Homo sapiens: one gene and its partners. The protein of the gene in region 7 purifies or fractionates together with the protein of the main gene of each other region. This does not show direct contact. Each region holds a gene or a part of one and is shown on either strand. Other genes may lie near its edges. The genes, in order: AHCYL2, VRK2, EMC1, ARHGAP35, LTV1, FAM171A1 and RND3.

Evidence for each region.
Region 1: the proteins of RND3 (region 7) and AHCYL2 purify together in Homo sapiens (affinity purification with mass spectrometry, with the first as the bait; one large-scale study listed by BioGRID). This does not show direct contact.
Region 2: the proteins of RND3 (region 7) and VRK2 purify together in Homo sapiens (affinity purification with mass spectrometry, with the first as the bait; one large-scale study listed by BioGRID). This does not show direct contact.
Region 3: the proteins of RND3 (region 7) and EMC1 purify together in Homo sapiens (affinity purification with mass spectrometry, with the first as the bait; one large-scale study listed by BioGRID). This does not show direct contact.
Region 4: the proteins of RND3 (region 7) and ARHGAP35 purify together in Homo sapiens (affinity purification with western blotting; 2 studies listed by BioGRID, with this or other methods). This does not show direct contact.
Region 5: the proteins of RND3 (region 7) and LTV1 purify together in Homo sapiens (affinity purification with mass spectrometry, with the first as the bait; one large-scale study listed by BioGRID). This does not show direct contact.
Region 6: the proteins of RND3 (region 7) and FAM171A1 purify together in Homo sapiens (affinity purification with mass spectrometry, with the first as the bait; one large-scale study listed by BioGRID). This does not show direct contact.

Annotation. Positions count from the first base shown.
Region 1 is NC_000007.14:129,227,540-129,232,124, forward strand, and holds part of AHCYL2 (adenosylhomocysteinase 3), read left to right. Parts: intron 1-4,585. UniProt on the Homo sapiens protein: May regulate the electrogenic sodium/bicarbonate cotransporter SLC4A4 activity and Mg(2+)-sensitivity. On the contrary of its homolog AHCYL1, does not regulate ITPR1 sensitivity to inositol 1,4,5-trisphosphate.
Region 2 is NC_000002.12:58,084,173-58,088,757, forward strand, and holds part of VRK2 (serine/threonine-protein kinase VRK2), read left to right. Parts: intron 1-708; coding exon 709-778; exon of another isoform or gene 779-827; intron 828-2,166; coding exon 2,167-2,254; intron 2,255-4,168; coding exon 4,169-4,274; intron 4,275-4,585. UniProt on the Homo sapiens protein: Serine/threonine kinase that regulates several signal transduction pathways.
Region 3 is NC_000001.11:19,245,025-19,248,524, forward strand, and holds part of EMC1 (ER membrane protein complex subunit 1 isoform 1 precursor), read right to left. Parts: intron 7-3,500; coding exon 1-6. UniProt on the Homo sapiens protein: Part of the endoplasmic reticulum membrane protein complex (EMC) that enables the energy-independent insertion into endoplasmic reticulum membranes of newly synthesized membrane proteins.
Region 4 is NC_000019.10:46,916,039-46,920,623, forward strand, and holds part of ARHGAP35 (rho GTPase-activating protein 35), read left to right. Parts: intron 1-2,449; 5' UTR 2,450-2,637; coding exon 2,638-4,585.
Region 5 is NC_000006.12:143,845,801-143,850,385, reverse strand, and holds part of LTV1 (protein LTV1 homolog), read right to left. Parts: intron 4,336-4,585; coding exon 4,162-4,335; intron 256-4,161; coding exon 168-255; intron 1-167. UniProt on the Homo sapiens protein: Essential for ribosome biogenesis.
Region 6 is NC_000010.11:15,367,917-15,373,032, reverse strand, and holds the start of FAM171A1 (protein FAM171A1 precursor), read left to right. Parts: upstream 1-1,743; 5' UTR 1,744-1,980; coding exon 1,981-2,077; intron 2,078-5,116. UniProt on the Homo sapiens protein: Involved in the regulation of the cytoskeletal dynamics, plays a role in actin stress fiber formation.
Region 7 is NC_000002.12:150,480,750-150,485,334, forward strand, and holds part of RND3 (rho-related GTP-binding protein RhoE precursor), read right to left. Parts: intron 1-4,585. UniProt on the Homo sapiens protein: Binds GTP but lacks intrinsic GTPase activity and is resistant to Rho-specific GTPase-activating proteins.

The DNA of each region.
Region 1 (4,585 bases), on a different chromosome or scaffold from region 7:
CACCTGAGCCCAGGAAGTTGAGGCTGCAATGAGCACTCTAGCCTGGGTGCTGGAGTGAGACCTTGTCTCAAAAAAAAAAAAAAAAAAAAAAAAGTTAAAAAATCAAAGACCAGCATACTGGAGTCTGTTTTTCTTAATTCTAGATGTGCTTCTTGACCACTTTCCTTGTCGTTGAACCATCTTCCTGTTTTTTCAGCACCAAATGTATGTTCCATGATTGTAGATATACTCAGCAGCCTCAAGGCTATTGTAAAGCAGGGCTGAGCTTGCCTTACAATGTTAATTGCACCAAAAAAACAACTTCTCTGCTGAAAGTTAAGCAGGTGAAGCTCTGGGCAAGGATACAGCTGGATGACGAAATTCAGGGCATTGCTGAGCTGCTTTTCAGGTGCCCAATCTTTAACCTTCTTGATATTGAATTGGCTAAATCAAAATAAGTGCCCAAGACTGCCCTTTCCCTAAGTTGAAAGTCATCTCACCAAGGAACTGCAGTGTGACATTTTGATTTGTTGAGCCTTTGTTGATTCTTAGATTGTCTATGTAAATAACCACTTTGACCTTGACTCCTTACTGTTTTTCTTATAGCATATGAAGGAACTGAGAATACTAGTATTGAAATAGCTGCCTTTGGCTGTGGAACTGGTGACTGTTGCATTTGTTTTTTAACTTTCATGTATAAACATTTATTTTAAGTCACATTTCCATAGATGGTTTTCCTTACTTCATTCACATATCATCAGTTTTCTTAGTTTTGTTACTCTGCTCAGCCACACAAGGGGAATAAACTTTTTACAAGAGCCAGAATTCCCAAGTGCAGTAGTTAATAAGAAGGAACATATGGTGTGCAGGTTACTCAATCACATCTTATCTTTGGCACCTGCCTCCGTCCTGTAACTTGCGATGCTCTGGGGGCCAGATCATGTTATGTGGCTATGATATATTTAATTATAGTGTCCTTTTTCATAAGTTGACATCAAGTGAACCCAGCAAGCCAAAAATCTCTATAAGAAGTAATTTGGGAAATGGGAAGGTAAGTTCCACAGGGAATGAGGTAGTACTAGCTGAAAGGGATTTCTTCCTTGTGTTCTTGAAAATGAGTGATAGGAGTGTTGGCGCACAGCAGGGAAAACAAGGCAGGAGAGGATTTATTTCAGAAATATTAAAACTTTCTGACAATAAGGCTGCAAGCCCAAGAACCTCAACTAGATTGTGCTTACATCAGTATCAGTAATGACCGTGTTCAAACAGACCCTTTATTGCTTTTGGCAAACATATCCACCTTCCACTGGCTTTGTTGCTGTCAGGAGAGAATGAGTTGAGCCATGTTAGCACTTCTTGTCCTGAATTGTTTAAGCTCTTGATTTGGTTAATTATAGAGTACTAAAATGGAATGTTTTGGATAAAGACATGGGAATGTGGTAGCAGTATGACTCCTTTTGCCTGTTACAAGAGTACTGCTCTGAAAAGTGTTCAGTAAGGCAATTGGCAGTTGGTCTGTAATAATAGTTACCAATAATTAGCCTTTTTTTTTTTTTTTTTTTTTTTGAGACAGAGTTTTACTCTTGGTGCCCAGGCTGGAGTGCAATGGTGCAATCTCAGCTCACCGCAACCTCCGCCTCCCGGGTTCAAGCGATTCCCCTGCCTCAGCTTCCTGAGTAGCTGGGATTACAGGCATGCACCACCATGCCCGGCTAATTTTCTATTTTCAGTAGAGATGAAGTTTCTCCATGTTGGTCAGGCTGCTTTCAAACTCCCGACCTCAGGTGACCTGCCTGCCTCGGCCTCCCAAAGTGCTGGGATTACAGATGTGAGCCATTAGCCTTTTATGTGCCAGGAGTTGTCATAGGGGTTCTGTAATCCTCACAACCATACTATGAGATGTAGGTGGCATTATTTCCATTTTATAGATGCAGAAATGAGATCCTGGGAGGTTAAGTGCCTTGCCCAAGGTTATACATCTAGAAAGTGTCAGAGGTAGAACTTAAATCCAGGGCTGTCCGTCTCCAAAGCCCATGTCCTTTTCATTATGCCACAGTGATTCTAACTTCTTAGATGCTGAGTTCTTGCTTTCTCCCAGAGGTCTTTTAGAATACTAAGTGAACTCTAAGGCGTGTCTGTCTGGCTAAGGCTTAGGTCATCCCAAGACCAAAGTAAGGCAGGTCTGAGTTAGAGCTTTAGGAAGAGGATGGGAGAAAATTGTACAAATGTAGAACTTGAAAGAATTGTAAATTTAGAAGAGGAGAATAAAAGCATCTTATACAGAAAAGCATTTCAAGATCAATGATGCAGCTTCACACTGGTAATTTACTGATAATCTGAGAAATTTATCCATATTTTAAAAGTTATAAATAAATTTGGAGTACCTGAGGAATATACCCTTTCTTCCTGTTCAGCTAACACTTTTTCCCTATTCTTTAAGCCTCACCATCTCTATGAGTCAATCTTTGATAAGAGCTTTTGAAAATTGCAAAGGGAAGAATATTCCTACTGTATACCAGGCATTGTACTTAGAGCTTTACATATACTGTTTTATTTAATTCTTTTTTTTTTTTTTTTTTTTTTTGAGACCAAGTCTCGCTCTGTCACCCAAGCTGGAGTGCAGTGGCGATCTCGGCTCACTGAAACCTCCGCCTCCTGGGTTCAAGCGATTCTCCTGTCTTGCCCTCCTGAGTAGCTGGGACTACAGGTGTGTGCCACCACACCCGGCTGATTTTTTTAATTTTTAGTAGAGACTGGGTTTCACCAAGTTAGCCAGGGTGGTCTCGATCTTCTGACCTCGTGATCCACCCGCCTCAGCCTCCCAAAGTGCTGGGATTACAGGCATGAGCCACCGCGCCCGGCTATTTAATTCTTTTAAGAGGCCTCGAAGATAGCTAGTGTTCTCCTTGTTTTATTGAAGAAACTGAGTGTCGAAGAGATTAAGGAATTTGTCTCAAGGTTACACGGTAATGTGATGGAACTAACAGAGCCCTAAACTGTTGCTTTTCAATTCAAATAGTACTCTGTTCGAAACTCAGGATGAACCTTCTAAATCTTTTTTTTTTTTTTTTTGAGATGGAGTCTTGCTTTGTTGCCCAGGCTGGAGTGCAGTGGTGCGGTCTTGGCTCACTGCAACTTCTGCCTCCCGGGTTCAAGTGATTCTTCTGCCTCAGCCTCCCGAGTAGCTGGGACTACAGGTGCACGCCACCACGCCTGGCTAATTTTTGTATTTTTAGTAGAGACGAGGTTTCACCATATTGTCTAGGCTGGTCGTGAACTTCTGACCTCGTGATCCACCTGCCTCAGCCTCCCAAAGTGCTGGGATTACAGGCGTCAGCCACCACGCCTGGCCCTAAATCTTAATCTGTGTTTTTTGGGTAGTTTTTTTGTTATTGCACTGACAGTTTCTTTTTATTTATTGCGTGGTTGAAGGTCTTACCGTGTGTTTTTGTGAGCATTTATTTTCTGAGAAAGCAGCCTGAGGTGGGCAGATCATGAGGTCAAGAGATCAAGACCATCCTGGCCAATGTGGTGAAACCCTGTCTCCACTAAAAATACAAAAAATTAGCTGGGCATGGTGGTGCACTCCTACAGTTCCAGCTACTCAGGAGGCTGAGGCAGGAGAATCACTTGAATGCTTGAATGCGGGAAGTGGAGGTTGCAGTGAGCCGAGATCATGCCACCGCGCTTCAGCCTGGCGACAGAATGAGACTCTGTCTCAAAAAAAAGAAAAAAAAAAGCTGCTTTAGGAGCTGAAGTTGCAGTTGTGTGTTTGATGTCTTGAGGAAGACAATTACTACTACTACTACTACTAGTACTACCTACATTCTCAGTATCCAGTTAATTGAAGAAATCGATAGTTCATTAAAAAGGGAGAGTGAGTTTATTATATCATTTCCTTGGAAGTGATTCCCTCCCCCACGAGAGAAAAAAAGTTTGTTGTAATCTTTATTCAGACCCTTTGTCAAGTTTATAAAGAATATGCAGTTTGTTTCATGGTGGTTTTTGTTTAAATAATTTAGAGAGGTACAACTGAGGCAGATGGGAAGAGAACAATCTTGGCAGTTGCCCTGATCCACTGCCCTGCTGTCATGTTTAGGTGGTAGACACAATTAGAGGAGCTGAAATTCCATTCACCCAACAAGAGGTTTAGTAAACTTGATCAGATTTCTATGGAATTTGTAGGAGCTTTTTATAGTCTGAATGACCTATGGCCTGCGATTTGGTGAGAGCAGAGCAGAAAGCGGCAGTGGATTGACGTTTCTTCTGTAACAGTTCCCAACTCTAAAATTACTTTGATTAAATTAGATGATTATTTGTATGGGTTTCAGTCTCCCTTTTCCCCAGCTGTATCGTGCAACAGTTCAGTTAGCTATTTCCCTCTTGGACGCTTGCACTAAAAGCTGGTGATTTTATTTTCTTTTTTTTTTTCAAGGGTCTATCAGTAGAAATCTATTGGTTTGGGGCACCTAGTTCTTAGCTTAGAACCTATATAAAGGAAGGGTATTTGAACTGCTGATTGAGTTTCTCTGAGTATAGGACTTTAGCCTTTCTGAATGTTGCAAACCTGAGGCTAAAACTAGCTTCATCTTCTCTGCACACACTT
Region 2 (4,585 bases), about 92 Mb from region 7:
ATTTGACTTTTTCCTTTTCTGCTTTAAGAATGTTTTTCACGTTAATTTTTGTAACTATTGCCTTATCAGTAAACCTAATGTTATCATCTGTTTTGACGTTGTTAAAACATTAAAACTGGAGAACCTTTGTTTTTCTGTATTGCCAGCTATTACCCTGGTGTGTTATCTATCTAGCTATTCTTTCTCTTTCCCTCCCAAATGCCCTCCCACCCTCTCCACCTCTCTAATCAAGATGGTAAGGTCCTTAAAGGCAAGCATAGGGTTTTATTTCTTTTTGGTGTCCCCTGTACCTAGTATAATGAATGAAATATAGTAGACCATTCAGTAAAGGTATCATGTGTGAGTGGACCACAAGGAGAGTTTGCTGTGTATCACCTGGATGTATATGTTGGTATACAGTGAGTGTTGTATATGTTTATGTATACAGTTCTCAGTGCTTCTAGTAAGTGTTCTCTGTAAGAAAACTACTTTTATGTGTAAGACTGTATAGGGATAGTGGTACAATATGTCGTTTAAAAATTAGATTCTTCAAGTTTATTTAGTGTTTTCTGAGATTTTTAGTGGAAATCTGGTGCCTATGTTTTATAAAAAGTGATTCAAGTACTATTATATACTACATATATATGTTCATATTTTCACAGTTGAAATAACAATTCCATCTTTGGGATTATTTTTTTCTAGTAAAATTAATTATTCTTTTTTTTATAGGAATATCAAGAAAATGGCCCGTTATTTTCAGAACTTAAATTTTATCAGAGAGTTGCAAAAAAAGACTGTAGTAAGTAAAATTAGCAAAGCAAGCTACTTCCATATATGTGCTTGCTAAAGTGAGTGTTGATATTTTGGTCTTTTTCTGGCCTTCTGGAAAATTCTTTTCAATAGAAATTTTATTGTAAAGTGATACAGTTAACTGTTACAACATATAAAAGCAAGACAGATGGTATACAAATCTTGACATGACATACATAATGGGTTATATATTTTAAGTCAAAGTTGTTTCTACTACTTTACATAAAATGTTAGGTTGTTAATCTAAGCTACCAAGAGTTCCCTAAGTGTAAAAGATAGTAGAATGAAATTATTTCTTTTACAGTAAACCATTTGGATAGGACGGCTATAAGGAAAAAACATTAAAATGGGAAGTAGATATATGTATAAAAAAAGAACGATTGTAGAATGGATTGGGGCAAGGTGTGTGGAAATGTGAAAATGATTAAACTTTAAGATGTTTAAGAAAATGTTAGAAACTTGAATGCTGGAAAATTAATTGGAGCTGGATACCAAGTGTAAGAATGACCAGTTAGAAGACTTGAATGGGAAATGAATATAAGCAGAGAGGAAAAATAACAGCATTTTATAAATGTGATATAGATGGGCTAAGAAAAACATTAAAGAAGTAGACAGGAGTAATGACTGTATAGTCAAGGTCCTTTACATCATGTTTAAGAATAAGAGTGATGGGTCTGACCTCAATATTTAACTTAGTTTTTCTTAATAAAGTCTTCTAAACATTAAGACTGTAATCTTTACTAATTGCTTAAACTATGTCACAGTGACAAATAGAATCCATTAAACTTGATTGTTTATCAGTAGAGCTGTCTTAAACATAAAAAACATAGGCTAGAGTCATGAAAAAAATGATGAAAGTTAACTTTATTTAAGTGGATTTGATTTTTTGTAAACTAATCAAAACCAGTTTTTGTATAAAGTAATTTCAAAGTAAGATGGTTTTTCTGCCCAATTTCTGCTTTTTTTTTCTTTTTTTTTTTTTTTTGGTCCATTATGGTTTTAAATCTTGAAGTAATAGGGAAGAAAAAGCCATCTCTCTACTGATCTTTTGGTGGTTAACATATGTTATATTTAGAAATTTAGCTAGTATATAAGATAATGAATTCTTTTTATAGATTGAAACATTAATATATATGGTATCAATATACAAAGCCTATGACTTGTTTTTATTGATTTAATTTAAAAATTTCTAATTTTTTGTTAATTATAGTGGTAACAGTTTGAGGCCATTAGATAGAGATGTTTGATTGAAAAAAAATTATCTTCTAGGAAGATCTAATTACTTTTTTGGTTAGCTAAATAAATTTGTCTGTAGAAAGGTGACAAGTATCTTTTCAAATAACATGAATCTTTTTAAAAATAAATTTGTCTTTGTAGTCAAAAAGTGGATAGAACGCAAACAACTTGATTATTTAGGAATTCCTCTGTTTTATGGATCTGGTCTGACTGAATTCAAGGGAAGAAGGTAAAATGGAATTATTATAATCAAATATTTCTTTATAACTATTCCTTATGTGGTCTATGAGTTAACTATTGCCATGTAACAAATTACCAAAACATATTGGCATATAACCACAAACTTGTATTGTCTTAGTTTCTGTGAGTGAGGAGACTGCAAGTGGCTTATCTGTATGATTCTAGATCAGGATCTCTAATAAGGATATGTAGTCAGCTGTCTGCTGGGTTACATTCATTTCAAGGCTCATCTGGGGAAGTATTTGTTTTCAGGGTTCCTCATGTGGCTACTGGTAGGCCTAAGAAGATCTACTTCTAATTTACTTATGTGATTGTTGGCAGGCCTTCTTACTTCCTGATCATGTGGGTCTTTGCATAAGCTACCTGAGTGTTATGAAAAATAGCTGGCTTTCTCTAGAGCAATTAATTGGGGGACGGGGAGAGCATGCACACAAGTGCATTCAAGAAGGAAGTCATCGTTTTTTGTAATCTAATCTTAAAAGGGATATTATCGCTTCTGCTTTATTCTCTTTGCTAGAAGCTAGTCACTAGATAGATCCATTGGTCCTGAGAGAGGAGAATTCAGTTCTATCTCTTGAGGAGAAGCACAACAAATAAGTTATAGAAATATCTTTAAAACCACCAAATATGGCTAGTCCTATATATAATTTATTAATAGTGTTTGAAAAAAGAAAAAAAGTGTGTCATTTTATATTTACCCTTTTGTGCCAGAGACTTTTATATACTTTATCTTATTTTGTCCTTTGAATAGCCTGTTAAAATAGGTGATATTATTTTTATTCCATAGATGAGAGAATAAGCTCAGATGTCAGTACTTTGTTGAAATGGTCTCTAAATGCTTTAAATTTAAAAAAATGAGCAAACAGTAATCTTGAAGTAAAGGACTGCCACTGGGGGACTGAATGGCTGATTGAATCATGATACATCCATATCATGTCATATGTAGCCCATTAAAGAAGTCCATTAGAGCTATACTAGTTGCCTTAGAAGGATTTTGATGAGATACTATTGAAAAAAGTAAGATGGAGAAAATACTTATAATATGATCACATTTTTGTAAAACAAATTCCTAAGTGTGTGTGTTTGTGTATGCATGCATAGATATAGAATAGGGGCTGATGTGGATATATAAATGAAGGGAAGGAAAGAAGGTATGGAAGGTGCCAAACAGAACAGAAAAGGAAGAAGTGCACTTAAAGACATGTTTATAAATGTATAGAGACGGTATATATGATCTTATCAAGAAACAAACAAATATAAAATTCATGTGGCTGGGCACGGTGGCTCATGCCTGTAATCCCAGCACTTTGAGAGGCTAAGGCAGGCGGATCATGAGGTCAAGAGGTCGAGACCATCCTGGCCAACATGGTGAAACCCCGTCTCTACTAAAAATACAAAAATTAGCTGGGTGTGGTGGTGCATGCCTGCAGTCCCAGCTACTTGGGAGGCTGAGGCAGGAGAATCGCTTGAACCTGGGAGGTGGAGGTTGCAGTGAGCTGAGATTGCACCACTGCACTCCAGCCTGGTGACAGAGCGGGACTCTGTCTCAAAAAAAAAATCAAGTGTGTACAATAATTTGTTCAAGGCCATATGGCAAGAAAGTCATGGAGTCAAAATGAATTGCATTCAGTACTATCTAATTTAGAAAGATTTTTTCATTATGTAAAACAGTGTGAATGGTTCAGTACAGCATTCTCTTATAGAAAATCAGCTGCAAAGTAAATATTGAGCAGTTTCTGCAAAAGAATAGCAGAATTATGAACGTGCATTCATTCTCTAATGGTTTAGATTGCATTATACTTAGTTGTTAGGTTGAGCGTAATTTTTCTTGTTTCAAATTAAATAGACAGTTTCAAGCATTACTTTCTCAGGATGATCTCTTTTTGATGCTTTTTTCTTACAGTTACAGATTTATGGTAATGGAAAGACTAGGAATAGATTTACAGAAGATCTCAGGCCAGAATGGTACCTTTAAAAAGTCAACTGTCCTGCAATTAGGTATCCGAATGGTAAGAATTACTTATTTCGCATGCTCCATTTCCAAATTGTTTACTTCTTGCAATATAGAAATCTTTTCCCTTTGTGGAATTATTAGAGAATGAAGGATTATTGCCCTAGAGACATCAGTTATTAGGAGTAGAGGCTATTTTGGTGAAATTGATAACAATGGGCTCTGTAAGTGACAGAATGTGCTGTGTATGGCACTGCAAACTCAATTAGGCTTTGGTTCTCCAGTCTGATCTTCTTTTTCCTTAGAGCTTTGTTTTACATACCAGAACAAGCTTTCATTGCTGTAAGAATAACCTTTCTTTTGTCAGTT
Region 3 (3,500 bases), on a different chromosome or scaffold from region 7:
TGTCTCCTGAGAAAAAAAGAGTACAGGGGACCATAAGGAGCTAAAATCACCATTCCACAAAATGCTCCGGAAAAAAAATCACAGGGCTATCACCATCACATTCATTTTAGGACACATAAGACGTGTTTGTTAGCTGGGCGCAGTGGCTCACACCTGTAATCCCAACACTTTGGGAGGCCGAGGCAGGCAGATCACCTGAGGTCAGGAGTTCGAGACCAACCTGATCAACATGGAGAAACCCCGTCTGTCTCTATGAAAAATACAAAATTAGCTGGGCATGGTGGCGCATGCCTGTAATCCCAGCTACTCGGGAGGCTGAGGCAGGAGAATTGCTGGAACCCGGGAGGCGGAGGTTGCAGTGAGCTGAGATCGCACCATTGCACTTCAGCCTGGGCAACAAGAGCAAAACTCCATCTCAAAAAAAAGAAGTGTTTGTTAGTGAAGAGCTCTGACCAAAAGCAAGATTTCCATTCAATGTAGTCAGATGCAAAGAGAGTAAGAGAAGAAAATTAGCTCCTAATAGATAATACTAACTCTTCCTTCTAAATGGAAGCACATATTTACCTTCAGATAAGTGACACCCAAAAGGGCACCTTACCTTTCTTTTTTTTTTTTTTGAGACGAAGTCTCACTCTTGTCCCCCAGGCTGGAGTGCAATGGTGCAATCTCAGCTCACTGCAACCTCCACCTCCCAGGTTCAAGCGATTCTCCTATCTCAGCCTCCCGAGTAGCTGGGATTACAGGCACCTGCCACCACGCCCGGCTAATTTTTTTGTATTTTTAGTAGACATGGGGTTTCACCATGTTGGCCAGGCTGGTCTCGAACTCCTGACCTCAACTGACCCACCCGCCTCGGCCTTCCAAAGTGTTGGGATTACAGGCGTGAGTCACCACGCCCGACTGAGATCACAGCACTTCTTAACAGCACAGAGCAAGCACCTCCTTTGTACTTGGTAGCCTACCATGTGAGGCTAATAATTTTCTCGATTAGGATCGCTTGAGCCCAGGAGGTCGAGGCTGCAGTGAGCCGAGATCACACCATTGCACTCCAACCTGACAAGACTCTGTCTCAAAAAAATAAACAGGCCAGGCGCAGTGGCTCACGCCTATAATCCCAGCACTTTGGGAGGCCAAGGTGGGTGGATCATTTAAGATCAGGAGTTCGAGACCAGCTGGCCAACTTGGTGAGAACCCATCTCTACTAAAAATGCAAAAATTAGCTGGGCGTGGTGGCACGTGCCTGTCATCCCAACTACTCGGGAGGCTGAGGCAAAAGAATCGCTTGAACTCAGGAAGCAGAGGTTGCAGTGATCCAAGATCGTGTCACTGAACTCCATCCTGGGCGACAGAGTGGGCCTCTGTCTCAAATAAATAAGTAAATAAAATACTGTTGTTTTATCTGGATATAAAAGTAATGCCTCCTTATTACAGAAAATGAGTGGGTGGGGGGAACACTTATAACAATTTAAAAATCTCCACCAGGCACGGTGGCTCACACCTGTAATCTCAGCACTTTGGAAGGTCCAGGCATGCCGAACACTTGAGGTCCGGAGTTTGAGACCAGCCTGGCCAACATGGTAAAACTCCATCTCTTATAAAAGTACAAAAATTAGCTGGGCGTGATGGGCACCTATAATCCCAGCTACTTGGGAGGCTAAGGCAGGAAAATCGTTTGAACCCTGGAAGCGGAGGTTGCAGTGAGCCAAGATCATGCCACTGTACTCCGGCGTGGGTGACAGAGCAAGACTCTGTCTCAAAACAATAAAAAATAAATAAATAATAAAAATTTTAAAATGTAATATATCACTCTTCTGGATTGAATTGTATCCTCAAAAACTCCTGTGTTGAAACCCTATCCCCCAGTGTTACAGTATTTGACGGCAAGGCCTTTAAAAATGTAATTATGTTTTAATAAAGTCAAAAGGGTGAGGCCTTAATCCAATAGAGGAAGAGACATCAGGGATGTGTAAGCACAGTAAAGGCCATGTAAGGATACAGCAAGAAGGCAGCCTTTTGCAAGCCAATGAGCGAGGCCTCAGAGGAAACAAAACCTGCCAATGCCTTGATCTTGAATTTCCAGCCTCCAGAACTGTGAGAATATCAATTTCTATTGTTTAAGCCACCTAGTCTATGGTATTTCATTATAGCAGCCTGAGAAAACTAATACAACCACCACTATAGATACACTTTTTATTATTTGAGATGGGATCTCACTGTGCTGCCTAGGCTGGATTGAACTCCTGGGCTCAAGTAATACTCCCATCTCAGCCTCCCAAGTAGCTGGGATTTCAGGTGCATGCCATTGTGCCCAGCTTTGTACATATACTTTTAACGTTTTACTATACAGTCATGCACTGCAAAACAATGTTTCAGTCAATGATTGATCGCATATACAGCATATACAGTGGTGGTCACACAAGAGTATAATGGAGCTGAAAAATTCCTATAACCTAGTAACATTGTAGCTGCTATAACATTGTAGTCGAATGCATTAATCACGTTTGCGGTGAAGGTGGTGTAAACAAACCCACTGTACTGCCAGCTGTATAAAAGTACAGCATATTCAATAATGTATACTACATAATACTTGACAATGATAATAAATGACTGTGTTACTGGTTTACGTATCTACTTTTTATGGTTAGAGTACTCCTTCTACTTATTAAAAGAAAATTAACTGTAAAATAGTCTCATGCAGGTGCTTCAAGAGGTATTCCAAGCTGGCCGCAGTGGCTCATGCCTATAATCCCAGCACTTTGGGAGGCGGAGGCGAGCAGATCACCTGAGGTCAGGAGTTCAAGAACAGCCTGGCCAACATGGTGAAACCCCATTTCTACTAAAAATACAAAAATTAGCCAGGCATAGTGCTGTGCACCACAGTCCCAGCTACTTGGGAGGCTGAGACATGAGAATCACTTGAACCCGGGAGGTGGAGGTTGTAGTGAGCTGAGATCATGCCACTTCACTCCAGGCTGAGCGACAGAGTAAGACTCTGTCCCAAAAAAAAAAAGAGGTATTCCAGAAACAGGCATTGTTATCACAGATGATAGCTCCATGGGTGTTACTGCTCCTGAAAACCTGCCAGTAAGACAGTATGTGGAGGTGGAAGACAGTGATATTGATGATCCTGACCCTATTTAGGCCCAGGCTAATGTGTTTGTGTCTTAGTTTGTTTTTTGTTTGCTTGTTTTTTGAGATGCTCTTACTCTGTCACCCAGACTGGAGTACAGAGGCACCATCACAGCTCACTACAGCCACGACCTCCCAGGCTTAGGTGATCCTCCCACCTCAGCCTCCCGAGTAGCTGGGACTACAGGCACCCACCACCATGCCCGGCTAATTTTTGTATGCTTTGCAGAAATGGGGTTTCGCCATATTGCCCAACCTGTTTTTTGTTTTGTTTTGTTTTGTTTCTGAGATGGAGTCTCGCTCTGTTGCCAGGCTGAGTGCAGTGGCGTGATCTCAACTCACTGCAACCTCCGTCTCCCAGGTTCAAGTAA
Region 4 (4,585 bases), on a different chromosome or scaffold from region 7:
ATTCTCCTGTCTCAGCCTCCTGAGTAGCTGGGACTACAGGTGCCCACCTCCACACCCAGCTAATTTGTTGTACTTTCAGTGGAGACGGGGTTTCACCATGTTAGCCAGGATGGTCTTGATCTCCTGACCTCGTGATGCATCCGCCTCGGCCTCCCAAAGTGTTGGAATTACAGGCGTGAGCCACCGCGCCCAGCGAAGGAATCCAAACTCTTAAAGTGGTTTGATCCAGTCCCTGGTTCCTTGCTAATGCATCTTACCCATTCTTTCCCCACACACACTTTGTTCCAGTTGGTTCTCCCAACTGGCAGTGCTTTTTTTTGCGGAGGGAAGGGTCTGTGCACACTCTGTCCCTCTGTCTTAAATGCACTTCATACTTCAGGTCTCACCTGAGATGGAACTTCCTACAGAAAGGCTTTCCCGAATCTGAAAGGCTGGGCTTGGGGACCTTTTAATATGCTGAATCATCATTCAGTTATTGATTCTTTCAGTGAATATTTGTGTCAAGCACTGTGTCATAGGCTGAGGACACAGAATAGAACTAAACAGGGGACAGGCCTCACAGAGCTTGCATTCTTGTCAGGGAAACCATCTCGTATTTACACACTTAATTTTTTTTTATTTGGAAATGATTGAAAACTTGTAAAAATAGCACAAAGGAATATCCTATATGCTTTACCCAGATTCATCTATTTTTTTTTTTCAGATTCATGTGTTGTTAACAATTTACCACCCCATTTGTGTTCTTACTCTTTCTGTATACATAATTTTTCCAGTGGGATCAGTTACGTACATTATGGCCCTTCCCCTCAAAATACTAAGGTGTCAGTTTCCTAAAAGTGGAGACATTTTCACATGATAGATTTTATAGATTTACATTGATAAAATATTTTATTTGGGAGGATTTATCCTTCCTGCATTTCTTTTTTTTTTCAATCTTTTTTTTACTGTGTTAAAATACACAAAACATAAAACTTGCCATTTTAATCATTTTTAACTATACAGTTCAGCGATATTAAATACTTTCATGTTATGCAACTATTTCTGTAACACTTTCCATCTTGTAAAACTGAAACTCTGTACCCATTAAGCAGTAACTTTTCATTCCCACTTTCCCCAGCCCCTGACAACCACTGTTCTACTTTCTGTCTCTATGAGTTTGACTACTCTTAAGTACTGCATATAAGTGGAATCATATAGTATTTGTCTTTTTGTGACTGGCTTATTTCACTTAGCACAATCAAGATTCAGCCATGTTGTCAGAATTTCCTTCCCTTTAAAGGCTGAATAGGCCAGGCGTGATCGCTTACGCCTGTAATCCCAGAACTTTAAGAGGCCAAGGCAGGCAGATCGCCTGAGCCTAGGAGTTTGAAACCAGCCCGGGCAACATGGTGAAACCTCGTCTCTACTAAAAATACAAAAGTTAGCTGGGCACGGTGGCGCATGCCTGTAATCCCAGCTACTCGGGAGGCTGAGGAAGGAGAATCACTTGAACCCAGGAGACGGAAGTTGCAGTGAGCCAAGATCGCACCACTGCACTCCAGCCTGGGCTACAGAGCAGGACTCTGTCTCAAAAAATAAAATAAAAATAAAGGTTGAATAATATTATATTGTATGTATATATCACATTTTGCTTATCCATTCATGAGTAGGTGGATACTTTGGGTTGCTTCCATGTTTTGTTGTTGTTGCTGTTTTGAGATAGTCTTACTCTGTTGCCCAGGCTGGAGTGCAGTGATGAGATCTCAGCTCACCACAACCACTGCCTCCCAGGTTCAAATGATTCTCCTGCCTCAGCCTCCCAAGTAGCTGGGATTACAGGCACATGTCACCACACCCAGCTAATTTTTGTATTTTTAGTACAGACGGGGTTTCACCATGTTGGCCAGACTGGTCTTGAACTCCTGACCTCAGGTGATCCGCCCACCATGGCCTCCCAAAGTTCTGGGATTACAGGCGTAAGCTACCACGCCCGGCCCAGGTTCCTGTTTTTGCAGTGGGTTTATAATTCATTACCATACTTAATTATTGTGGCGCTCAAATTGTCCCAGAGTTGGCCAGTGGGAGCCCCTTCAGGCTGGCTTCTGTGTCCTTGTGAGATGCTCCATCGTTTTTTTTCTTGCATAAAAAGATGTTCCAGGCTCATTTTGTCCCTATCCTGCCCTAACCCTGGAATCAGCCCTTTTTCCAGGGAGCCCTCACACCCTTGTTTTAGCACTTAGCACACTGTTTACTTATGTTTTCCTCCACTGGACTAGATTGTACCTCTCTGGGGACACATAGATGTGAGTCTTACTTGCTCTTGTATCTTCACCCAGCACAAGGCCTGACACATGAGATGTTTACTAAATATTTGTTGAATAAAAAATTAATTTTTACTGTAGTTAATTGATTAAAATTTGGTTCTAAAATTATGATGCTGATGGGTTTTCTTTTTTTTTCCCCCATCTAGGAAGAAATGTTGGCTATTTGGCGATGAGAGGTGGTGAACAGTGACCATACTGGTATACAACACTATGGGACCTGGCATTTTTGCTGCATGTCCAGCCCACCCCCACTAATAATGTAGGAAGCTGTCTGGTCCATTGGAAACACTAATCTGATCTCAGAAGTGGCTGATCGTGGCAGGATGTGTCGACGATGATGATGGCAAGAAAGCAAGATGTCCGAATTCCCACCTACAACATCAGTGTGGTGGGATTATCTGGGACCGAGAAGGAAAAGGGCCAGTGTGGGATTGGAAAGTCTTGTTTGTGCAACCGCTTCGTGCGCCCGAGTGCTGACGAGTTTCACTTGGACCATACCTCCGTCCTCAGCACCAGTGACTTTGGAGGGCGAGTGGTCAATAATGACCACTTTCTCTACTGGGGAGAAGTTAGCCGCTCCCTGGAGGATTGTGTGGAATGTAAGATGCACATTGTGGAGCAGACTGAATTTATTGATGATCAGACTTTTCAACCTCATCGAAGCACGGCCCTGCAGCCCTATATCAAGAGAGCTGCTGCGACCAAGCTTGCATCAGCTGAAAAACTCATGTACTTTTGCACTGACCAGCTGGGGCTGGAGCAGGACTTTGAGCAGAAACAAATGCCAGACGGAAAGCTGCTGGTTGATGGTTTTCTTCTTGGTATTGATGTTAGCAGGGGCATGAATAGGAACTTTGATGACCAGCTCAAGTTTGTCTCCAATCTCTACAATCAGCTTGCAAAAACAAAAAAGCCCATAGTGGTGGTCCTGACTAAGTGTGACGAAGGTGTTGAGCGGTACATTAGAGATGCACATACTTTTGCCTTAAGCAAAAAGAACCTCCAGGTTGTGGAGACCTCAGCGAGATCCAATGTAAACGTGGACTTGGCTTTCAGCACCTTAGTGCAACTCATTGATAAAAGTCGGGGAAAGACAAAAATCATTCCTTATTTTGAAGCTCTCAAGCAGCAGAGTCAGCAGATAGCTACAGCAAAAGACAAGTATGAGTGGCTGGTGAGTCGCATTGTGAAAAACCACAATGAGAACTGGCTGAGTGTCAGCCGAAAGATGCAGGCCTCTCCAGAATACCAGGACTATGTCTACCTGGAAGGGACTCAGAAAGCCAAGAAGCTGTTTCTACAGCACATCCACCGCCTCAAGCATGAGCATATCGAGCGTAGGAGAAAGCTGTACCTGGCAGCCCTGCCATTAGCTTTTGAAGCTCTTATACCTAATCTAGATGAAATAGACCACCTAAGCTGCATAAAAGCCAAAAAGCTCTTAGAAACCAAGCCAGAATTCTTGAAGTGGTTTGTTGTGCTTGAAGAGACCCCATGGGATGCCACCAGTCACATTGACAACATGGAAAACGAACGGATTCCCTTTGATTTAATGGATACCGTCCCTGCAGAGCAGCTATACGAGGCCCACTTAGAGAAGCTGAGGAACGAAAGGAAAAGAGTTGAGATGCGAAGGGCGTTTAAAGAAAACCTGGAGACTTCTCCTTTCATAACTCCCGGAAAGCCTTGGGAAGAGGCCCGTAGTTTTATTATGAATGAGGATTTCTACCAGTGGCTGGAGGAATCTGTATACATGGATATTTATGGCAAACACCAAAAGCAAATTATAGATAAAGCAAAGGAAGAATTTCAGGAGTTGCTTTTGGAATATTCAGAATTGTTTTATGAACTGGAGCTGGATGCTAAGCCCAGCAAGGAGAAGATGGGTGTTATTCAGGATGTTCTGGGAGAGGAACAGCGATTTAAAGCATTACAAAAGCTCCAAGCAGAGCGTGATGCCCTTATTCTGAAACACATTCATTTTGTGTACCACCCAACAAAGGAGACATGCCCCAGCTGCCCAGCTTGTGTGGACGCTAAGATTGAGCACTTGATTAGTTCTCGGTTTATCCGGCCGTCTGACCGGAATCAGAAAAATTCACTCTCTGACCCTAACATTGATAGAATCAACTTGGTTATATTGGGCAAAGACGGCCTTGCCCGAGAGTTGGCCAATGAGATTCGAGCTCTTTGTACAAATGATGACAAGTATGTGATAGATGGTAAAATGTATGAGCTTTCCCTGAGGCCAATAGAGGGGAATGTCAGGCTTCCTGTGAACT
Region 5 (4,585 bases), on a different chromosome or scaffold from region 7:
AAAAATACAAAGATCACATTCATCCCTTCCTAATAATCCCTGATCTGAATTCCAGACATATCTCAATTGTTTCAATACTTTACTGGGGATAGAAAAATCCTACATCATTTCTTTATGTTTTGCAAAATACATTTATCCATATGAAAAGATAAAGCAATTAAAAATACCTGAAACTGGAGCTGCTTTATTTAACAATCCAACATCTTCCTCAAACTCTGAAGCAAACACTGATGAAGGCAACTTAATTCCAGTGCTCTTGAAAAAGAAATTGCACAATGGTTAGGTTTATTTGGAAATTCTTCTTAACTAGTGTACCGGGTTGAAGTCCCCCCCAAATCAATGTCCATCCAGAACCTTAGACTGACCATATTTGAAATAGGGTCCTCTCAACTATAATAAGATGAGGTCTTACTGGACCATGGTCCTATAACGAGACCACATGAAGACAGAGACTCACAGGGGAGAATGCCATGTGCAGATGACAGCAGACTGGAGTGAGGCCTCTATAAGGCAAGGAATTCCAAGGAATGATCACCGGTAACCTTCGGAAGTTAGGAATGAGCCATTCAACAGCCTCTCCCTCTAAGCCCCCAAGAAAAAAACCAAACCTGCTGATACCTTCATCTCAAACTTCTGACCTCCAGAACCATGAAGGAAGAAATTTCTGTTGTTTTAAGTCACCTAGTTTGTGGTAATTTGTTACTGCAGTCCTAGGAAACTATTACAACTACATTCTGTGTTCTCTCACCTGTGCTCCAGGTTGTATATATGTTAAACATGTATATTCCATCATAAACCCAAAAGTAACTCTCTATAATACATCACAATGCCTTCTCTAGCAAATTATTCCATTTATCCCTCAGATCCCATGAGGTATCACCATGTTTTACCAAAAGAACAAAAACTAGGAAAGTTTAAATGGCCCACCTGCCTGAGAATGATCAGTAAGTGAGATTCTGGGATTCAAATCCCAGAGTTTCTTAACTCCACTTGCCTGAAATTTCAAACCAAAATTAAACATTTTCCTCTTAAACTAGAGATAATGTCCTAATCTCTAGTAATGGCACAGCCCTTGTATGAATTGGCAATCTTAAATCCTCGGGTGGTTATAAATCATTTTGCTCTGTCCTATGTCCCCTTGAAATCTCTTACATACAGTGATTTCACTCTATTCTTTGGGGCATCACCTCATTTATAGTTAACCAAAACATAAATGACTGCAACCGCTCATATAGCTAGTCTATATCTACTACAACCTTCATACCCATGGCGAGATTAAGCTCCTTTAATAGTTTTTCATGTGACCTTCTTGAGTTTCTGACAGGTCTCAATTTTTCACTCTGTATTTAAGGCCCTGGTTCTCAAGGACCTATAAAATCAAGGCCTACTCTGTGTATCCAAATTTCTCAGTTATTCTATATGACCATGCAAATCAAGTTCATTCCTCAGTCATGTAATAATGCAAAACACTTTACTTGGCGCGCATGTGCCTGACACGGAACCACAGTGCTCACTGTCTCGGCAGCCTGACTGAAAATGTTCCTTCTCCTGTCAACAGTACCCACCACTTGGTGGCCAGCTCGGTTCCTACCCTCCGACATGAAGCCCTTTCTGATCACTGTCCTAGAACTTCCCTTTGTGTGAACTTCCCGCCTTCTTCACACGCTGCAATCTACTCAAACATGTGCTTGCTAGCCTACATTCTCTGACTGGTTCTTATGCTTGTTTCCTCTCCTTGACCAAACAGTTCATAACGTGAGGACAACCGCCATGTGTTATTTATCTCTGTGCACCTCACCACCTGCCCTATCCTCAGCCCAGGAGGAGGCACAAAGCTGGAATGTGCATCCTCATTGGCTCACTGAGAAAGCTCTCTGAATTGGAAGCCTCTGAGGAGCATGAGTAAAGGCTACATATGGCAGTGTACACACAGCAAGATGTTATGGCTTCCAAAATGAGTTTCTCAGTAGCACAAACATGGGCAAAGATGTTATTTTGCTGTAGAGTATATTTTTAAGAAAACAGCTTTACTAAGACATCATTCACATACAATTCACCTAAAGTGTACAATTTAATGTTTTTTAAGGATATTACATTATTAATTACTTAAAATTGTAGTAAAATCTACATAGTCTTTTAGGTTTTTAAAAAGGTACCTTTGTGATATTTATCCTTAGAAGTTTGGGGTTAAACACAAGGTCAGTTTGTGTTAAATGAATTTACCTTTGTGAGATATTTTTCAAATCTTGAAAAGTAGTCAATCACATACACGATTAAGAGTTTAAAGAGAAATTACTCTGTTTTTAGAGGAGTGCTGTGTTTTCATTGGTTGCAGTAGTTCTCAACTACATGACATTTGCCCAGCTACTTTCCACAACAGCACCACCATCTTTCTTTCATGTCAAAATCAGGGCCTGCTCAAGCATCAATCATTTCTATACTGCCTTTTTACACTGTCTTACACTGTTTCTAGGGGTTATTCATTATTTCTAATCTACTCGAATTTGGTGGTGTGTTACAAATTAAAGTAAAAAAAGTATATGGGACTAATCCATATTTTTTCATAGCTCTTCAGAAAACCAACCACACTTCTGTTTTTAAATACAATTCAGCTGTCCCTGCAAAGGTCACTGAAGTGTCCATTTAAGAGCCTTATCCTGTTAAAAAGCCAATTAGTGATTGCTTTTACTCAAAATGAATTAAGGATTAAAAGTTAGTCTTATACGACCGGGCGCGGTGGCTCACGCCTGTAATCCCAGCACTTTGGGAGGCCGAGGCAGGCAGATCACCTGAAGTCGGGAGTTCAAGACCAGCCTGACCAACACGGAGAAACCCCGGCTCTACTAAAAATACAAAATTAGCCGGGCACAGTGCCACATGCCTGCAATCCCAGCTTCTAGGGAGGCTGAGGCAGGAGAATCGCTTGAACCCGGGAGGCGGAGGTTGCGGTGAGCCGAGATCGTGCCACTGCACTCCAGCCTGGGCAACAGGAGCAAAACTCCGTCTCAACAACAATAACAACAACAACAAAAGTTAGTCTTGTACTGGTCAATACAAGCCAGGCAAGACTTTACTAAGAATTTTCTCCCTTAGATAAACAAGTTGAGCCACTAAGGAACCCCTTCTCTCCTTCAATAGGTTATAGAAGCAAGTGAGCCAATAAGTCCCTACTACCAATAAAGCCTTGAGGAAGAAGGAATAAAGAAGTTGGTTCTCTATGACAGAGATGTGGTGGGATTTGGGGCGTTACAAAAGAGCCACAACCTACTTAGTGAACGAGCAGCTGCAGTTATTACCTTTCTTTGGGATGGTATCCTGAAACCTAACCTTTCTGAGTCTCCTTAAGCAACAAGCTATTGCCTATAAGAACTACAATCACATCTTCCCCAAGGAAAGGAATGCCTAGACCATGACAGAATTGGGGAATGAGGAGCAGGGTAAACTGGTGCCCTTTCTATCTCTTACCTTTTGCTTATAAACCTAATGAATGTCTCCTTTTTTTAAAGTGCTAGGTGATATAAAAGTTTCCCACAGGAAAATTTACTCTACATCAAATTAAAAATAAGGTCACGGAGGCATACAACATGGGCATTCTTAACATAAACAGGGGAGAAAACAGAACTTAGACTAACAGCACTAATTTCTTATAAACACGTACTATCATTTGTCCTGAAAGAGAAGGTATTAAAGTGGACCGAACATTTGTTTACAAGACAGGAATGTTATTATCATCCACTCATTCTGTTTGCTTATGAGTAGCCTGCAGCTTTTACAAAAGTGTTAAAGATCTGAATATTCCACAAAAGTTAAGTCCTATCTTAGAACAAGAGTTTATGATCCTGAAAACAGTTATGTTGTTAACATGTAGAATGTCAGCTGCTTTTCTCCTATTGAAAAGTGCTGTCTAACATGGCCATGTCTATCAATCAAAAGTTCTGAACCTATAAAAAGGCTGTTACTGTTGACACCTGCCACCAGAGAAGACGTGACCTATTCTCTCCTGATGGTATACACATGCATACACATATATAATTTTAAGTGGAGGCGTGGTCTATCTTTGTGCTCTTCATACGGACACCATTTCTTGCCCCAAACAGATATCTTGATTCAAAAATGATTTCTTCACCTCACTCCCACAATTAAATTGCTGAAAAGCCTTACTGGAATTACTAGCGTTTCTTCTTTCTCCTCTCTCCTGTTGTGTGCACTGAAGGTACTTGAGGGAATAAGCTCTGAAGGCCCAGATGGTTCCTTCAGGTGCTGCAGGTAGTCATAGTCGTCATCAAAGAACACTCCATACTTCCTCTGTTCTGCTCGCCTTTCTTCATTGTCTATCTATAAACGAAATGGAATTAGTACTTTCTTCACTATCTATAAACAAAATGGAATCAGTAAGCCTTCCAAGGATAAGGCATGGGAATATTACAATGAGTACAGCTTTCCAAGTAGGAGGCAGATGGCACATGAACATTTTGGCTGATGGGAAAAAGACAAAGAATTCTTGACAAACAGGAAATGTACAGCTTCAAAACCAGAGTGCTACGTAACATTAAAATGGAATGAAAACATTCATGCTTTTAAAAGG
Region 6 (5,116 bases), on a different chromosome or scaffold from region 7:
GCTCAATTAATGAAATTACAGTAATAACCCTCCTTCTGGCCTGGTGTTCTGGAAGCAGTGTGGGGTGGATGATGGGTCTGGAGTGGATTTTCCTAGGTCCCCAGTGGAAGTCGGAAGGTCACCGCAGTGCTAGTTGGAAGAGAAGGTGGAGAGGGACAAGTGGAGGTGAAGGTTGTGTGGAAGGCATACCGACAGGAGTGGGTTGAGAGAAAGAAAAGTTGAGGTTGGAATGGAGGGGGTCCCTAGGCTCAAGGAAAGTCTAGAGGTTTGGTTTTGTTTTGTGTGTGGTTTTTTTGGTGGTTTTATTTTTTGATTTTTTTTTTTTTTTTTTTTTGAGACGGGGTCTCAGTCTGTCATCCAGGCTGGAGTGCAGTGGCACGATCTTGGCTCACTGCAACCTCCCCACTCCCAGGTTCAAGCGATCCTCCCACCTCAGCCTCCTGAGTAGTTGGGACCACAGGCATGGGCCACTATGCCTGGTTAATTTTTTTGTATTTTTGGTAGAGACAGGGTTTCACCATGTTGGCCCAGCTGGTCTCTTAACTCCTGAACTCAGGCCATCCACCTACCTCAGCCTCCCAAAGTGTTGGGATTATAGGCATGAACCATCACACCCAGCCAAGTCTGGAGGTTTTTGTGAAGAGTTTCAATTTTGGGGTCAGACTGACTGTTTTATTAGAATTTTGGCTCTGCCACTGACCAGGTATGCACTTTTGGACAAATTCCTTAACCCTCTTTAGCCTCTTTTCTCATCTGTGAATGGGGGGGATAATGCTAACTACCTCTTAGATCATGTATTGTGAAGATGGACAAAGAGTCTCTGCTTGACCGAACTACAGTCAGGCTCCGGAACCTTCTTCTAGGCTCAGTTGTGCCCTTCCTTGTAAAATCTGCTTTCAGGAAGAACCCTGCTAAGTCAGTTTACCAAGAACCCTCCACCCTGGATATCTGATCAGCTTCCCCATCCGCCCTGTCCTGCCCAGCCCTGCCAGGGGATGTCTGACTTTCAAGAATCCCCCTTCCCCCTGATGTTTCCTCTTATAATTTTTCATTCCCTGCATCCCACCCTGGTCCTCGGTTATAAATCCCCACTTGTTCCTGCTGTATTCAGAGTTGAACCCAACCTTTCTCCCCGACTGCAGAATCCCATGGTAGGGCTTATACCTATTGCGATGGTTCCAAAGAGGGTCTTCTTTGCTGTGCTTTCACACGTGTCATGGAATAGTCTTTTTTCTTTAATAGGACAGAAAGTTTTAAAGCACCTAGGGCCTCAAAAGATGTGGATTTCCTCCCCACCCTAACCCCTAGAACCATCCAAGTACCATTCCTCCTGAAGCTGTCCACCCGCCAACACGTAGGTACTGCAGGCCTACTGCAGTCTATACTGGCTTGGGGAGTGTTTTTGCGGATCTTTAACACTGGGTGTGAAATCTACGTTGGGGGACACAACTACATTAGGATGGCACCTGGTGGGGGGGTCACACCCAGATACAATGTCTCCTGCGGCCCCTTGGGTGACCTGGTGTGATGAAAAGGGCTCCGCCCTGAAAGGCAGGTCTGGCTCTTCTGCGGGGCTGCGGGGATGGGGCGCGCCGGGGCAGTGTCGCCGGGGGTCGGGCTGGGGGCGCGACGCAGCGGCGCCGGGCGGGGGCGCCCTCGGCGCCGCAGCCGCCAGGTGGCACCACGGGCCCGGGGCCTGGGCGCGGGCAGCGGCGGCGGCGGCGGGCGAGGCAGGAAGGGGTTAAGGAGCTGGCGGAGCAGCAGCAGCCGCCGCCGCCGCCGCCGCCGCGGCTCTTCGGGGAAACCCGGCGCGGGGCGCGGGAGGGAGCGGCCGGGGCGGCGGGGCCGGGCCAATCGGGCGGCGGGCCCGGCGCGCGGAGCCAGCGACATGGAGGGGGGCGCGGCGCCCGGCCGCCCGTGACGCGCCGCCGCCCGGCCCGCTCTCGGCGAGCCCGAGCCGCCGCCGGCCCCGCGGCGGAGATGAGCAGGTCCGCGACGCTGCTGCTGTGCCTGCTGGGCTGCCACGTCTGGAAGGCGGTGACCAAGACGCTGCGGGAGCCCGGCGCCGGAGCCCAAGGTCAGTGGGCGGCGGCGGGGCCGGGGGCTTTGTGTCGCGCCGGGCCTGGCGCGGAGGCGGCGGCGGCGGCGGCGGCGGCGGGAGGGTCCCGGGCCGCGTGGTGGCGACGCAGCCCGAGCCGCATCGGGAGCCTCCGGGCCTGCAGCACCCGCAACGCGCTCCCGAGGGGGCGGCGCGGGCCGGCGACGCGGGGTGACCCGGGCGGAGGCTTCGGGGGCCGGGGATCGGGGGCTGGGTCGGGCGGGGGCGCGGGCAGCTCCAGCTGCTGTCGCCGCTGCGGCGGGGGCTCGTCTGGATGCGCCCGGGGGTCCCCTTTATGCCGCGCCTCGGACACGCGGCTCTGTCTCCCATGTCGCCGCGGACAGAGGGGCCGCCCAGGGCGCGCCGCCCGATCGCGCTCCCGGCTCCCCACGCCGGGCTCGGGTCTGGGAAGTCCCAGCTCCTGGGCTGCGCTGGGGCCTTTTGTTGTGGCGGGAGGGGGTGGCTGACGCCCCGGGGTGCCCCCTGTGTCCCGGGGCCCCGAGGTCCGCTGCCGCCACTAGCCACTAGCCTGCCGCAGTTTGGGAAAGTTTGGGGGGTTCTCTCCCCCTGCCTATCTGACGTCTCTTCCAGACCATAAGGGATTTGCTCAGCGGCCCATGAGTCTTCTCTGTAAGGGAAGAAAGAATTGAACTGGGAGGCCCTCATCGCTCACCAAAAAAAAAAAAAAAAAAAAGAAAAATCCTTTCCAGATCAGTTTGTCGCCAGCTCGTGCCTTTTGTCTCGTCTTTGGCCTCCACAAATCTGCTTTCCAGCCCTGGGAGTAACGTGGTCGCCTCTGAGAATGGCCACGAGCCTGTCTTTTGTTTTTAAAATCAGCGTTTTTTGAGGGGAGTCCCCCACACCCACCCTGAGGCTTGCTTGGCACATTTTTGTGGGGACAGCGTCGAGGACTCCTCTGTTGCTGGCGTTTTCAAAAGGGCCACTGAGGCCCGCAGATGAGCCTCTGCATTCACCCAGGGCACCGCTGCCTGGACTCTTGCCGGGGGCTCAGGTCTCTGCGAGGGAGCTCCCTGCAGCCCTGCAGAACCCCGGGATTCCGAGCCCGAGGCCTGTCCCCTCAGAAGGGTGTGTGTCCTGCAAAGTTGGCCCTGCAGGCCAAAGAAACGAGGAGTGCTGCATCCGAGGGTCTCCTTGCTGGAACCCCCTTTCCTCGGCTAACATGCTCAGGGTGCCTGGGAGCAGAGACGCCCGGGCTTCCACCACGATGTTGCTACGGGGAGGAAAGGCTCTGCCAACACTCTGTTGGGTTGAGTTTGTTGCCTACATGTTGAGTTGAAGGTTTTCATATTCTGGCACTTGCAGTATCATTTCCTGGTATATCTTAAATGCATTGCTGCTTCTATGGCCATGGTAGAATATGACCGTTATGAATTGTGTATAATTTTAGTAATGCATATCATGGAAGAGCGGACAGCTACAAAATACAAAAAGACCTATATGTCTCTTCGTGTAGGAAACGAATGTTTAGGACATTAGATCATCAGTGTTGCATTGCAGCTTCTTTTATTAATACCCTACTGCTTTTTTGAATCAGCTATTTTAGAGAATGATATTTGCACTTCAGCGAGGCCGTTAATTTTAAAGAGCAAGTTGAATTTTTCCTTTTGCACTTGAAATACCAATATATGGAAATATTAAATTCATGCACTTCTGAATTAGAGAAAGGAAGGCATGTCTTCAATATATATATATATATATATTCAATATATATATAACAGGTTTAGGTCTAAGACCACGTTTTACCCAGCTCTTGCTGCTAAAAATCCGCCTCTCAGGAATGGAATATTATGCGAAATGGGAGGGAAATGGTCAACATGAGAAGAGGTTTCTGCCATGGCTAGCAGTGGCTTAGTTTAGGGTATGGTTGGAGTGGGAGATCAAGTATCTTGGCATAGTTTACCCCTTGGATTACTTCCTTTGTTGTTATCTACTGTAAGGATGGCTTTTTAAAGCCTTGAGCCCAGGAACTCTTTCAGAAATCAGGTCTCACTACCTGGCATTTGGATTTTGAGCTAGCAGCATTTTTAAGGGAATGGACAATTTCTCCTTTGACATTAGAAGGTCAGTCCCAACTCACTGAGTTCTTCAAAGCATCTTAATGTTCACTTGCTGTAGTATGACGTAGTTTTAAAATTCATGTGTTCTCTGCTTTCCTGGATCATGTACACGATGAAGACAAATGCTGCATCTGATTTCACTTTGCATTTCCCACAGTGGGTTGTAGGTTGTTATGCATACAGTTGGTGCTCAGATGGTGCTGAGTAGGTAAGCATCAACCATAGCTAATACCTACACCATAACGCAACCTTTAGTGATCATCATTGGCTTGCATTTTAAGAAGAAAAGTTCAATGTTTACCTTCCCCAAAAGCTAATTTGTAAGAATCTTGCTTTTATGTAGAATCTGTTGTTTGAATCATTCTTTGAACAAGCATTGCACATACATATTATGCACCAACAGGATTTGGCAATTACTTTGGTAAAACTGCTTAGAGACCTCAAACAGACGGAAATCATATACTGTAGTAGTCCAACTAGATTGCTAGAACTAAATGACACCTTTTTGATTAAATGAGTCTTTATGTCATCTGATGAAACTAGCATCTGCAGAATTTCTTGGCATTACTTTGCTTTTTATATATTCAAGATAAAATTGGAGGCTTGGCTTCAGACTCTCTTCCCGTAGCTGCTTCGAATTGGCAAAGTGATTTCCAATGCCACAGTCAGTTGTCACGGTAAGGGTTGGCTTTGTTTATCATGAATTTGAACTAGCTCTAGACTATGACTATTTTTATTAAGTGTTTCCTCTCAGTTGCTCTGGAGCATTTATAGTATCGAATCTATTTTCTGGGAATTTTTCAAAATTGTTGTTCAAAAGTATTGACCCATTTTGATTTTCTTCACCTCTTTTGCAAAACTGTAATGAGGCTGGGTTCAATAGAGAGAGCTGTCCTGGAGGAGCAGTAAGCTGTGCAGATGTACTCTTTAGGGATGTGTT
Region 7 (4,585 bases):
TTACTGCATGGTGGACAAATCTCCAAATGCAGTTTTATGTACTGCTTATTGGAAACCACCATACAAACTATCTGTTTTACCTTAACCCAGGTCTTTTACATAAGAGTTTCAGTGTGAAAACTCGTTAAGAATTAAACCTAGTTTTGAAACCCTAAGCTCCAATGGATCATTACTACCTGATGAAATGCTTGGTTTCCTGCAATTTCACAGTTGATATTCAAATCCCAAGCATCCATGCTTCTCTGGCTCCTTCATAAATTCTTAACCTCTTCCTTTCTCCAAGAACGTTAATTTAAGTTATAATTCTCAGCTTCCAGAATCTTGTTTTATCTGAGAGCCACTAAATGTAAGCGAGTTTCCACGTGGAAGAAACGTTAAAAACTTCTTAGAACTTAGTCAACTTCTAGAAAGGAAGGGAATTGTGGTGGGCCTCAATGACCATTAAGTCATGAGTTAGGGAGCCTGGGCTGCCCTTGTGGCCTTCAAGAACTCTTTGGATCTTGTTGCTCCTTGAAAAATCCAGGTTTAGAACCTCCGGGCTCACCATCCTATAAACAGGTATTACAGCACTAGACAGGAGGAAGTCTTTCTATGTCCTCTGTTTGTCCTGTGGGTATTCAAAGAAGGTTGTCAGGGAAGAAGGATGTCTTTACCCTGTTCAAATCTCAGTCTACTGGCATCTCCTCTCACCTAAACACCTGACACTTAATCCGGGCTTCTCATTTGATTTCTTTTGTTAGTTTGGGAAAGCCTGAATATTTTAAATTTTATTGTCACTCATGTTTTCACCATGTCTGTCTTATCACATGGTGAAACTGTGAGTACCTAAGGGCAGAAGCTGCTCTCACCCAGCTCTGTACTCCTCCCATAGCATCTAGCAGATTGTATGCACACAGAAAGCACTAAACCATGTTTACTGGTTTTATAATCATTTTTATGTCTTGTCTAGATGTGTTCATTTATATGCTAAATCACCAAAAAAAAAGGGGAGGGGGAGAGAGAGAGCAGTGATCCCCTTTTAAGCTGCTTTTCTGGATTAATTATATACTAATCTCCAATACTGCTGAACCATTTCCATCCCTGTTAAGAAATATTTCATTAGAGAGCTTGTCACCAAGACCATTCTTCATACTTGATGTACAATAATCTAAATATAACAGCTTAGATAGACTTCTGTTTATAGAGAAGTTTGTCCTCATATTAAGGCCATTAGGTAACTAAGATATTTTTCCTCTCTTTTTCTCTAAGAAATAAAGGATACCACCTTAAGTGTTAGTAATGCTAAAAACTAAAATAGGAAGTACTAACTTTAGCACTCAGGGCTTAAAAGAAACTTGGATCATGACAAGATTCGAAAGAGTGTTCATGAGGCAATAGCATAGTTATTGTGGGGAATTTAGCAGCTGAATTGAATATGTTAAAAGTAATAATAAGCCTTAAATAAAATGTGCATTAACTTGCCTTGGTTAAAAAGCTGGAATGAATGATTATTACTCCCTAAATCACATGTGCTGAAATTACACTGCAATCAAATCTCTTAGGAAAAGATACAGTGATCCTTAAATGACTACATTTCTATTATTAGTAGGCATTTGGCTTCATGCTACAAATTACTTCTATGCTTGGCAAATGTGGCCAATTTTGAAGCACAAGATATTAGAATTACTTTGGTCTTACTTATTACTTCACAATTGAAACTATTACCCATTGTTTGGCAGAAACTCATTGGGTGAAATTTGAAAATCAATGGGAGCATTTCTGCAACTATTAAGAATGTTCATTTTATAATGAAAAATATTTTTTAGGAAAATGAAGAAGTTATGGGCCTTAAAAATTCCCTCTTTTAGATGATTCCTACAGCATTTTTACAAAGGTTTTGTTTACTTTTGTTGGGGGGGCTGGAGTACTGTAGCCCTAAGAATTGACTGGCAAAATGCCTTTTGTAGTTGCTTTAACTGGTGTGTGCAATGGGCGGGGGTGGGGGGGGCGGTGCGGGGGTAGCTGTTTCCTATCTGAAGAGGATCCAGAGGATCTATAAGCCCTAGGATGTCTGACAAAGGAAAAACATTGCAACCAAGTGGAAAAGGGCACTGGGGTTCAAGGACCTGACAAAATTAGGTGCATCATGAGTTGTTAATGAAATACACGCTAAACCAGAAGAGCTTCTTTTTCTCCATTACCCCACCTGAACTGTCTGCTTCTTAGGAGCAGGACCATGCTTAATTAACACTGTATCTCTAAGGTCTTGACAGAGGGCCTGTTTATAGTGGATGCGGGAAAAAAGGAAGAGATGGATGGAGAAAGGGAGAAAGGAAGGAAATATTAAGTTACTGTGCCTTAAAAAGCAGGAAATTATTTTTTTTTCTTGGTGCAAAGAGACTTCACATATCCTACTTTCACTTGGTAGTCTTTCTCACATCCAAATTGGCAGAGTTTGCCTATGCATGATCATGACTGCTGGGGGCAAAAGTAGACCCCTTATGAGAAGCTGTCCAACTAAAGAGGCCAGATAAGAGAGGAACTGTTTCTGTCTTCTAAATGGTTGCCCTTCTGCTAGGAGGGTAAACAGGACAGGAAATATCATTCAAAGGACAATGTTCATCCCGTATCTCTCCCTATATAAGAGCAGTCAGGCACACCCAATTTTTCCTATATAAGTCTCTTTCACAAAGTTCTAGGAGGGAAATAAAAAGTGCAATTTATCTGACATTTAGAACTTTACAGACTTGGCTGGGATCTTTTCTCCAGAGTTATATTGATGGCCTTTGGAAAAAATAAATGTATCAAGAGGCATAAGGCATATGCAATTATTTTTACAATCTGAACTAAATAAATGTTTTAGTGGGCAAAGAAAATGTCAAACATTTACCAAAAAATAGTCCTGTCCAGAAATTTGCCATGAAAAGCTTGGAATTAAATGGAAAAATGTTAAAGATCCTTGAAATAATTAGTTGCTGATTCAATGGTTCCTGCTAGATATAAACAACAAATCACTTTTGATGGAAACAGGCTATTCTTAGAATTTAAGTAAGCAGTGCTTGGTGACTGTGTTTAACTAACTAACATTTCACCTCATGAACAACATAATGGAATTCTAAATAATTCCCTTATGCCTCTTTTTTCCATTTGTTTAAATCTAAATTCTAACTAAGATTTCATTACCGGATAATTTTGCAGTACAAAATTTTCTTCATCACATTTTCAAACCTTTATATTTTAGTTAAACATACATAAGTTTTGGTTTCATTAAATAAAAAGACAAGTGATTATTTCACTACAAATTCATTTCAGATGATTATCTTTAATTCGATGAAAGGCAATGTTTATAAAGTTGCCATTCTTTGTGCACAGGTAATTCAGTGTGAATAAATGTCAGGGAACCTCATCTCCTTGGCAACTATGCATATCATTACTCATTTACTCATTCATCAGATTTTATTGGATAACTGCTGTATGCAAGGCATTGTGCTATGTGTGCAGAGTCTACGAACTGCAGAGTTTTGATTAAATGCATGAAGATACCTGAAGTGGTATTTACCTGCACATACGAAGGACAGCCTCCAACTACAAACTGCCCACATTTTGGTTTATGTTCTAGCCTTTATCAAACAATGTGCCTTTTCTCCCCTAAAAGAATCAATTTAGCCCTTTAGGCATCTATTCCGAAATATCCATTGGTGGTCCTGTCACTCTTGAAGCTTGAGATAGGAAATGTATAGCCCAGCATTCCTATAAGCCCACCCATTCCCCCTCCCTGTCCAGATGGGTTTCATTCCTAAATCCACCAGGAAGCCTGGCTCTGCCCAGAACCTGGCTTGCTTTGCAGGCTGTGAAAACCCCAGCACGGGATGCCAGATCCCCTAAGACTAAGAGCTGAAGCCAACCAACATCCTGGGAAACAAAAAGACCTGCCTGTCCAGCGTAATAAAGCCAAGAAGTGTACAGCTGGGAGAGATCCTGCACATCATCTAGCTCAGTGTCCTCTTTTTACAGATGATGAAAATGAGACCCAGGGAGATAGGGGATTTGCACACAGAAATCCATGGTAACCAGGAGCTAAGATCTAAACACAGCTTTGTATCAACGACTGGTTCAGACACACTGCTCCACCCCGTGCCAAAATAATTTTTATCGTGCATTAGGTCCAAACAGGGCTGCCGGTTGGGGCAGGGAGTACTGGTGCTTATTATCGGTACCACACCAGCTGTGCCATCCAGTAGGCATAACAAATACATACCATGATATGTCTGGGAATCAGAGCCCATTAAGTACCAGGCTGTAAAATAATTCTGATAGGAACTACTGAAATAAGGAACCACTTGAATTCTGTCTACCAACACCTTCTCCAGAGTTTCGAGTCTGTGTACCATCCCCAACAGAAAACACGGCGGCAAAGTCCTGATTCTGCTGCCCTTGGAACGGCTGAGAAAGAGCCTGACTCCAGGGGGAAACAAAATCAGCCCTTCTCACTGCAGCAGTCGGAGCATCTGGCACCGACCATGAGAGGCGCTCGCTCGTGCGAGACTTCTCGCTTGCCTTTGTGCTGGGACTGCCTCTGGCGACCCTGTCAGTCTGGTTCCTTCCT